Linked DNA regions of Homo sapiens: region 1 is linked to region 2. The links come from fine-mapping of genetic effects on gene expression. A gene starts in region 2. The other region holds a variant in brackets. All regions are shown on one strand. Distances are between the middles of the regions. Region 1 has its middle 10 kb from the start of TRC-GCA22-1. Region 2 holds the start of ZNF212 (zinc finger protein 212).

The links. PIP is the estimated chance that this variant, and not a neighbour inherited with it, causes the effect.
Region 1: its variant is the best candidate, but not a certain one, in a credible set for the expression of ZNF212 in whole blood (TOPMed, PIP 0.55).

Annotation. Positions count from the first base shown.
Region 1 is chr7:149,564,073-149,569,451 of GRCh38, reverse strand. It overlaps the pseudogene ZNF767P. Among named protein-coding and RNA genes, the nearest start is that of TRC-GCA22-1, 10 kb to the right of the region's middle. The variant A/G (reference allele first, on the strand shown) is at 2,856.
Region 2 is chr7:149,236,762-149,242,140 of GRCh38, reverse strand. ZNF212 (zinc finger protein 212) reads right to left here and starts at 2,490. Exons shown (of 5, transcript NM_012256.4): 1 at 2,339-2,490. The coding sequence starts at 2,362. RefSeq lists an enhancer at 2,429-2,723.

The DNA of each region.
Region 1 (5,379 bases), 330 kb before region 2:
ACCGGGTGTGACTCAATTCCTTACCCCTGAGGCCACTGCAATGAGGCAGTGGGGCGTGTCTTCATGAGAGAGGAAGAGAATGTATCCCCGTACGGGCCACCATTTTGTTATAAGTAAAATGTTTATTTAGAAATAAAATGTTTGTTTTTTGGTACTGCAAGGAAAAATTTGCATTTAGACAAAAAGTTTTCTCAGCAAGGCAATTTTACTTTGTGTAGAAAGGGGGCTCTTTGCAGATGGAATAATGGCCAGAGCACATTTATGTTTTATGTAGCTTGTCTTTTCTACTGTGTCTTGTCTCTATTGGCTGGAGCTAGACTTTATAATTTAAACTAAATTTGATTAGCTTCCAATTTAAAACTTTTTAAAATAGGTAAAAGTAATGGAGAAGAAAGGAAAAGAGGAAGTTGCTTATGAAAAGACTTAGAAAAGTAATAACATTCTTTAATGAGGAAGGGACACAGGATGCGAGCTAGAATGTGCTTGTAAGCATGTTTAGCACAAATATCTTGGTTAAAGTACAAAACATAGAATGTACTTATTCTTTTATATGTAACAGCTACATAAGATAAGGTTTAATAAAGAGTTATCGGCACAAAGCAAAGAGGCTTGAAAGAAGTTAGTTTTTTAAAAGAAACTATTACTTTTAACACTTATGATTTATTTTTTAATAAAAAGAGAAACTTTGAAAACAAAACTTTTTACTTTCTACAAATGTCAAAATAGAAAATGCGGAGGGGGTATCTGGAATCGAAGTGGTGGCCTCTTGGTTTGTAGTCTAACACCCCACCCCTGAGCTATGCCCCCTCCTGCTATTGTGGGGTTCAATTAATGTCTTTGACTTGTACAGTCACACCCAGATGACCTATGCGTTGCCACTTCGCAATGGAAGCTCCTAGGAGCTGCCAGGCCTACCTCAGTGAAAACTCATTGACCTTGTGCATAACAAGAGGCAGTGTCCCCTTCTCAAATACCCTGGATCTTGTGTCTTCGCTGCCTTGAGTCCTTGGTTGCGGGCAGCAGCCTGGAAAAGCACTGCCAGTGGCTGCTAGAATGGCCTTGAGAGTCAACCTCCAGTACCTGTTATGGTGGGCATGTACAAGAGAAACTGTGTGACCGAGGTGTCTATCCTAACACACTTAATGACAGAGTTAGGTCTGGCTCTCCTAGCCCAGTATTCCATTCAGGGCAGATTCAGCACAACTGCAGTCTAGGACAAAAGATGATTCTTTCAACTTTTACTTCTTCAGTTAATACAAATGAAGAATGATAGAGAAGGAGCAACTCCAAGAAATAGTGAGAAGTGTGTAGCTGAGTAGATTTCCCAAAAGCATTAATAGGGCCAGTGTTACCATAGTTTCATGACCAAAAACTGTTGCTACAGAACAACTCCACTTGGCTTGCATTGTTTTTCTTAAGTGACAGGGTATTTTTCTGTCATCCAGGCTGGAGTGCAGTGAAACAATCATAGCTTACTGCAGCCTCTAACTCCCGGGCTGAAGCAATACTCCCACCTCAACCTCCTAAGTAGCTGGGACCACAGGTGGGTGCCCCCATACCCAGCTAATCTTTTTTATTTTTTTGTAGAGATGAAGTCTCACTATGTTGCCTAGGCTGGTCTGAAACTCCTGGCCTCAAGTGACCCTTCTTCCTTGGCCTCCCAAAGTGCTGGAGTGACAGGCATGAGCCACTGCTTCCAGCATCCCATGTGACCTTTTCTGATGACAGACAGAGCCCCATCCCACCTAGAAAGAATACTTGGAGTAACACTTGGGTTATACCTTTTCACCTCCTCAGCTGTGCCAAGGCCCTACTTCTGCTCTTGTCACAGGAGCTGGCAAACTCTTCTTCTGTAAACGGCCTTTCCCTGCTACTGGAATTTTCTCCTTTACCCACAGGACTTTGCCTTGTAGTCCTGGCAGCCTTCTCAGAAGGCAGTCAACAGCCAGCCACTTCTCTCTGCTGCAGGCCCAAGAGCCTGGGGAAACACTGACTTCCACCATGATTTCTATGATAATGTTAAAATCCTCTTGCTTTTCCTTTTTGGCAGTAGGGTGGACTGCCAGGGAAGATGCAAAGAATTGATGAGCCTGCAGGAGCACAGAACGCTCTGCTGGCAGGGCTGGGCAGCAGCCTGAGTCCAGGAAGGCTGGGACTTGTTTGGATTCTGGAGGCCAGGTGTCAGTAGTACAGTGATGAACGGGCATTTCTAGGAAGAAGTCTTAGGCCCCACACATGGTGAGGAATCAGGAAGGAGACTGCCTTGCACAAAGACAGGATACAAGAAGGGCTGAGCTCTTCCAGAAGGAGTGAAGAGAAGACAGGAAAAAGAAAACCAGTCCCGAGAATCCCTAGCCACGGGCTGAGTGACTGGGGTTTAATGGGCCCTGAATTCACAGTCTTTATTGGGTCTGAAAAACTACAGGCAACTTATTTCATGTTGCAGTTGGATGTGTAGTGCTATAGGCTCCTGGCCAAATGAAAATCCTCCCCAGACTGCATCAGGAACTATGCTTCAAAGAATGCCTATCGATAGAGTTTGGACAAGTACAATAAGCCTGGGAGAAACAGTGCAGCGTGGATACCAATGGTGTGGATTCTGAAGTCAGACAGCCTGGCTTCAAGGCCTACCCCACTAGAAGACCTTGGGCAGATTACTGCCCTTCCCTTTCTTCAACTTTGTTACTGTGAAATGTGGGTAATAAGAGTGTCTACTTGATGGATTGTTGTGTAGATTGAATGAGTTAATCTGTGTAAAGCACTGAAGACAGGACTGGCACGTAGTAACTTCTGTATACTGTTTGCTGAACAGTTAAAAAGTTCGCAGGGAAATCAGCTGACATTCATGAGAGCCA[A/G]TAAACACAAGTAAGAAAATAAAACCTCATACAGCAGGAGAGGGTATCTATTGCACATAACTGATGAAGGGTTTATACCCAAAATATGTAAAGAATTGCACAAGACAATTAAAAATACACAACTCAGTAGAAAAATGACGAAGAGACTCGAGCAGTTACTTCATACAACTGGACATCCAAGCGACCAATAAGCCTATTAAAAGATGCTCAAACCTCATGAGTCTAGAAAGGTGCAAGTTAAACCACAGTGAACTATTGCTAGAATTGTTGCTAGGTTGGTTAAAATGAAAGAGACTGATGTTACTCAGTGATGGTATGTGGAACCATAGTAACTCTCATCCCCTGCTAGTGGTAGTGTCATTTGCTGTATCCACTTTAGAAAACCATCTGACATTATTGGCTAAAAGTAAAAATAGAAACACCCTCTTCCTCAACAGTTATATTCCTTGATACAGACATCAGAGAATGTATATGTACATGCAAGAATGTTCATGGCAGCATTTCTTTTAATAGTCCCAAACTGGAAACAAATGTCCATGAACAGTAGGATAGGTAAATAAGTCATGGTCTAGTCATACAATGGAATCCCAAACAGAGTTTTTAAAAGGACAGAGTACCACTACAGTGGAAAAACACAGATAAATCCTATAGACATAAGATTGAGTGAAAGAAAACAGTTTCAAAGGAGTAACTATGTATGATTCCAGTATATAAAATCAAGAACAGGCAAGACTAGTCCATGGTGATACAATAGTGTTACCTTTTCGGGAGAGAGGGTAATTGGGAAGGGGACCCAGGGGGCCCTCTGAGGTGCTAGAAATTTTCTGTATCTTGATTTGGGAGGTGGGTACATAGGTATGTATGTGTACAAATTAATTGAGCTGTACGTTGAAGATTTCTGTACCTTACTGTGAGTTGTATTTCAATTAAAAGTAAATAAAAAGGAAAACATTGATACTTTTCATTTCTGGAATGTCTTAGTTGATTTATTTTAAAAATATATTTGGTGAATTTTGATAGCCTTTTGCTCCTCAATTCAGTTTCCATTTCTCCTTTAAGAACACTTTTGTCTTGCTTTCAGTTTTCAATTGAAAGCTTTCACCATCCCACCATTAAATAAGATTTCTTTTTATGTTTTAGGTAGACACATCATGAAGATGTGTTGGATTTGATTGGATGTTTTTCTTCATCTATTTTAATGACATGATTTTTTTCCTTTAATCTGTTGTCTTAGCTTGGATTTCCTTAGAAGCAGACCCTGAAGCTAGAATTTAAGAGCAAGTAGTTTATTTGGGAGGTAAGTTCAGGAAACACCAGTAAGGAGTGGGAAGTCAGAGAAAGGAAAGAAGCCAATAAAAGGTGGTGTTAACCTAAATAACAGACGGAAGCTCTCTGAAAGGAAATTATATTTATTTAGGGAATGAGCATTGGCAATGGGAATACAGGTGTCACAGTAAACTATGTGTGTTTTTGAGGAGGTCATGGTAAGGGAAAGTTTTTAAAGGCAAAATGAGAAGGATTATATAAATTGTTTTGGAGAAATAATTCTTGGCTCTAGCAATCAGTAACAAGGGTGGCAACAGTCCAAGGCTAGTCAGGCTTTTGCTGGGCAGATGTCCTTGCAGAAGTATTTTTTGTGAGTGTGTAAGGTTACAATGGCCTTTGTGCAAGGTTGTGGTTTTTACAGTCTTTTGTGATAGTTCTTGTTATCAGGAATTCATATATAAAAGCTCTACCTTTGTGGCCTTCCCTGGCTCCATTTGCCGGGTTTTAACACAAGTGACTCCATTTTCATTCTGACAACTTTCACAGTGGGATATTGGACAAGTTACCATTATAGGCAACTGGAGCTTAATACCGTTGGGGACTTTGTAAGATGTATAACATGCTTGAGGGTTATCCTCTCCAAAAGAACAAGGCAACTTGTGTATTTCTCCATCTACTGCTATCAGTCATCGGTAGAGGGTTGCTTTCGAAGGTTGGGTCCTAATTATTTGGTACTTTCAGCCTGTTACATGTTTGGGCAGCCTGAGAATGCCCTCAGACATAAAGTTACAGGTGCTGACAGTTGAAATTGGGGCCTGCATGCACAGAACTGATAAGTTCTGAAGGAATATCAGTGGGGCAGCAACAGCATTTGCTATATCCTATAGTGTGGTGAATTACAGTAATAGATTTTTCTAATGTTAAGTCAAGCTTACATTCTGAAATGATCTTAATTTGGTTATGTGTTATTTTTTATGTAATGCTGGCTTTGATTTATTAATAGTTTTGCTTATGGTTTTTAAAGTCTATTCTATATTAATATGTGAGATTGGCCTGTTTTCTTACATTGTCTTTGTTATTTTTTATAATAAGTTTAACCTCATAAAATGAGGTGGGAAAGGGACTGCTGCTTTTAGTTTTCTATTCTCCAGAAGTGTCTGTGTAAGACTTACATCGTTTCATTCTGAAGTGATTGGTATAACAAGTGTTTGGTATAACAAGTGTTTAAACTATCTGTGCCTGGAAGTTTTTTGTTACT
Region 2 (5,379 bases):
CTGAGGCAGGAGAATCGCTTAGAACCTGGGAGGCAGAGGTTTCAGGCAGCCAAGATTGCTCCACTGCACTCCAGCCAGAGCAAGAGAGCGAGACTCTCTCAAAAAAAAAAAAAAAAAAAGAAAAGAAAAGAAAAAGAAGAAAAGAAAGAAAAGAAACGAAACTATGGCCAGGCACGGTGGCTCACGCCTGTAATCTCAGTGCCAAGGTTTAACAACTTACTTTGCAATCATCTGAAGGTCAGACCTTACTTTCAGTTCACCCTTACACAGAATGTTACCCTTTGAACTCTCTGCTTCATGGGATTGGGTTAGGGAGCTTCTTAGACTTTCCATCTTAGGCTCTGAGATGTGTGTTCCATTTTGCAGGTCCCTTGAATCATAAACACCAAAGATGAATGTTTGGCCAATGCCCTCAAAGTTGGCTTCAGAACTCTATCACTTTCGAGTTTCCTCTTTCGCTTAAGTTTTGGGGCTCCAAGTATTCTTTACTAAAATACATTTCAAATGCATTTATGTGCAGGGTTTTCCAGCATTTTCAGTTGTTTCATCAGGGCACCTACTTGAGCTTACTGTTAAATGACAGACACCTGAAATGTCTGAGAAGAGAAACAGGCTCAAGAACAATTTGAATAAGTTCTACAACGACAGATTCATGTTATTTAAGGCATAGTTTGGGATTGTGGTGGACTTTTTTTTTTTTTTTTTTTTTGAGACAGAGTCTTGCTCTGTCACCCAGGCTGGAGTGCAATAGCACGATCTCAGCTCACTGCAACCTCCACCTCCCAGGTTCAAGCGATTATTCTGCCTCAGCCTCCCGAGTAGCTGGGTCTACAGGCACCCGCCACCACGCCCGGCTAATTTTTGTATTTTTAGTAGAGACCGGGTTTCACCACATTGGCCAGACTAGTCTTGAACTCCTGACCTCGTGATCCGCCCTCCTCGGCCTCCTAAAGTGCTGGGATTACAGGCATGAGCCACTGCGCCTGGCCTGTGGTGGACCTTTAAGGCTTCTTCCTAACAAGGTCTACTGACGACATGTAGGTAATTGTGGAGTGACCTGGCAGGAAGAACTGTGGCAGAATCCTCTCGCCGGACTCTAACACTAACTAGATCTTGTGGAAAAGCCAAGTCTTTGACTGGCTCAGCCTAGCTTATAGGAGTCAGATGAGGTTAATATTGTAAACATTTGTGTCTTGTCTTCCCAATTCAACTGTTAACTTCCTTGAAAGCAAATACTGTGTTCTCTAAGTCTCCCAATCTCTCCGTTCTTAGTTCTTAACGCACTTTCTACAAGAATCAAATATAGCGCACCCTGCTCATGGTCAAATTTTCCCCACAGAATTTCCTTAGCCCTCCATTCTCACAAAGATCTAACATGATTCTCGAAGTGTTTCTAGACCAAGGAACACTTCATTAAAAGTCAATTCAATTCCAGCTGCCCCTTCCGTTGCAAACCCTCTGGTGTTGTTAAATTAACCACTACTTTGAAACAGTATGGGAACAGTATGAGAATGTCGGAGCTGGAAGGAAACTTAAAGCCTTGGAGATCATCTAGCAACTACTCCAACACTCTCGATTTACAGTTAAGAAAACGAAAGAGACCCAGAGAAGCGAACACAGTTGCCTAAAATCACCCAAATGGACAGCTGAAAGCTTCGTGACTCCACAAATAGGATTTTCCTCACACCAAACTCCGTATCTTGACATTCCCAGAATGGGGATGGTCGGTGGGCTGGGAGGGGGGTGTTGGGGGGGGGGTGAAGGAGAGAGTTTGGGCAGCTCTACAAACAAAATGCAGCAACTGCACTGTAGATAACATCCGTCCCCAAGGAGAAGCAGCCCAGGCTGACTTCAACCTGTGGCTGCAACCCCCAGACAGAAATCTGCAGCACTGGAAAAACCGACAACACATCGGACCGAAGAGGAGGTGGTCGCAGAGAGGCAAGTCCTGGGGTCTCCCGGGCAGCGGGAGAGCTCACTCGTAGCGACGGAGACCGTTTCCAATCTGGAAACACTCCAACCTGGGAACGGGCTCTTTTGGCACGAAAGAGAAAATGTGTGGGCAGGGTCACAAATCCACCAACCTAAAGCAAGCGTCAGAGAAGTTTCTGGGCAAGGGCGCACGGCGCCGAGGCTCCGACCCCGCTGCAGAAGGAAGCGGAGGGAAAAAAGGGCAGAGCACTGGGGTCGCGAAGAGGAGGGTCCGCGTTCACCCGCGCCAACGGCAGCCCCGGGAAACCAAGACCCCGGCGGCGTCCAAACCGCGAAGCCCCGCCCCCGGCAGGGGACTCCGCCATCCCCAACGCGCCCTCGAGCCAGCGCGCCGGTGCCTCTTTACCCGAGCAGGCGCCGACTCCGCCATGGCTCCAGTCGCCCCTCAACACCCAGACCCCGCCTCGGAGCCCCCGTGCTGCGTTCCTGTCCGCTCGGCGCCCCAGAGCCTGTTGGAAGCCGCCGCCGCCGCCGCCGTGTTGATGCCAGGTGCATTCTGGGAGCAGCGACCTCCCCGGCACAAGACCGGCTCCAGCCGCTCTTCCTCACTGTGCAGGCTTCCCATTGTGCCCCCGTGCGGCGGGAGGGAGAACGCTGCTTGGCACTCCCGGCCAGAGTGCGGGCACCAGGAGGGCTCAGTCACTCAAAAGTCAAGACCAGGTTCCGCGTTTCAGGCAAAGCCACGGGATCCTGCTGTCTTCCGTATGCCCAGCACTCTGCTAAATGCTTTGAGGGATTCAAAAATGTGTACAACTCAGACTTTTTGCTGAGGAAAGAACATGTAATGTTGTTGGGGAAAAGAAATATGGTTCCAAAAGGCAAGTGATTTTATTCCAAAAGTTCACCTGTTATTTGGCTTTTTAGAAACTGGGAACAGTTTCCATATCAACAGTGTGGAGCGTGGGGTCAGGCCCAGGCCAGCCCTCTGTAGCCTGTTAATTATGGTAATCATGTGCCTTGGAAAGTCCAAGACAACCCTGATTTCAAATATTTCCAGTCCTCATGCTACATGTAAGACGATGTGTCTGGAATTTTTGTTGGAAAGCACGGCCACATGACCATTTAATCGCCATGTACTTAATCCCCAATACCAGCAACACTACGGCAACCATAGCTGCCTAATTTATACCATTGTCTCTCTGGAGACAAGCAATGAACTTCCACTTCACAGGATAGGCGTGAAGTGTTTCCTCTGAGAACGAAACTTTTTTTTTTTGAGATGGAGTTTCGCTCTTGTTGCCCAGGCTGGAGTGCAATGGCGCAATCTCGGCTCACTGCAACCTCCACCTCCCGGGCTCAAGCGATTCTTCTGCCTCAGCCTCCCTAGTAGCTGGGATTACAGGCATGTGCCACCACGCCTGGCTAATTTTGTATTTTTAGTAGAGACGGGGTTTCCCCATGTTGGTCAGGCTGGTCTCAAACTCCCGACCTCAGGTGATCCGCCCACCTCAGCCTCCCAAAGCGCCGGGATTACAGGTGTGAGCCACCCCACCCGGCGGAGAACGAAACTTTTAAGATCATGACTGGCTCCTTCCTCACATGCAGGGCTCAGTTCAGATTCTACATCCTCAGAGAGATATCCCCAGTCCCCCCTTTCTACAGCCCCACACCATCCTCCATCTCAATACTCAATCTCGTTACCCTGCTGGAAATTTTTCATACCATTTATCACCATCTGAAGTAATCTCTCTTTTTCACTCATTTACATATTAATTATCTGTATCTCTTCCACTGAAATGTCTGTCTACTGTATCCTCCATTTGTTGTACACAGAAGTGTTCATATTTGTAAATGATTGAATGGTGAATCAGAGTGTAAGGATATGAAATGTCATCTCAAACAGAGGCATTATTTCCAGGGCAACTAGATCAACGGGCACGTCACTGAATCATTAATAAATCTAGAGAAAGAATGGGCCAGGCTGAAGAAACCGGTCAGTCAGGGAGATCCTGTCCAGAGGGTCTGACCTAATCTCTCAGACCAACAAACTCTTGGTGTCAGATACAGAAAAAAAAAAAAATGTGTCATGGGTGAGGTGGCTCATGCCTGTAATCCTAGCACTTTGGGAGGGCAAGGCAGGAGGATCACTGGAGTTTGAGACCAACCTGAGCAAATAGGCAGACCCTGTCTCTACAAAATTAAAATTAAAATTAAAATGAGCCAGGAGTAGTGGTGCACACCTGTAGTCTCAGCTACTCAAGAGGTTGAGGTGGAAGAATCATTTGAACCCAGTAGTTCAAGGCTGCAGTGAATCACGATCGCACCACTGCACTCCAGCGTAGGCAACAGACCAAGATCTTGTCTTTAAAAATAAAATAAAAATGTTATCCTCCACAGGCACAATATCAGGACATAGGATGCTGAGGTCATTAAACAGTTCGGTCGTAGAACTCATTCCCTCTATTCTATTTCTATACTCACAAGGCAACCTTCTGACGTTGCATGTTGCCAGGTAGCTTCTGGGAGGCAACATGCAGGTGAAGCTGATGCACATGTATACCTCAGTCTCTTGAAAATGAGCATGTTTCAGCATCCCAGACTCTGAGCCTGGAAGTCTGGAAAAAGGTTCAGATCAAATTTCCAGCCTGCAAAGGAGGCAGCACCAGGCACCAGGGTTGCAATCACGTGGGCTGGTGGAGATGGTGTGGCGCCTGCAGTCCCCCGGGCTGATGAAGACAGTGTGGCACAGTGATTTGCTAAGTGGGGCTGGGGAGTGAGACCGTCTGGGTCCCTAGCCCAGCACTGCCAGTATATTAGGTTTCTCTAGACAGACTAATAGGATATATATATAATGTTATATAAAGGGGAGTTTATTAAGTATTAACTCACATGCTCACAAGGCTCCACAATAGGCTATCTGGAAGCTGAGGAGCAAGGAGAGCCAGTCTGCGTCCCAAAACTGAAGAACCTAGAGTCTGATGTTCGTTGATGTTCGAGGGTGGGAAGGGTCCAGCATGGGAGAAAGAAGTAGGCTGGGAGGCTAGGCCAGTCTAGTCTTTTCACATTTTTCTGCCTACTTTATATTCTAGCTGTGCTGGCAGCTGATTAGATTGTGCCCACCAGATTGAGGGTGGGTCTGCCTTTCCCAGCCTACTGACTCAAATGTTAATCTCCTTTGGCAACACCCTCACAGACACACCCAGGATCAATACTTTACATCCTTCAATGCGATCAAGTTGATTCAGTATTCACCATCACAGCCACTTACTAGATGTGAAACTTGGTCAGGTCTTTAACTTCTTAGTACTTGTTTCCTCATGATTATTGGTGAATAGATAACAGTACTTAGCTCATAGAGTTGTGTGAATTAAATGAGTGAATTCAAGTCAAGTGCTTAGAACAGTACCTGGCACAGAGGAAGAGCTCAAGAAGTACTCATGATCATTA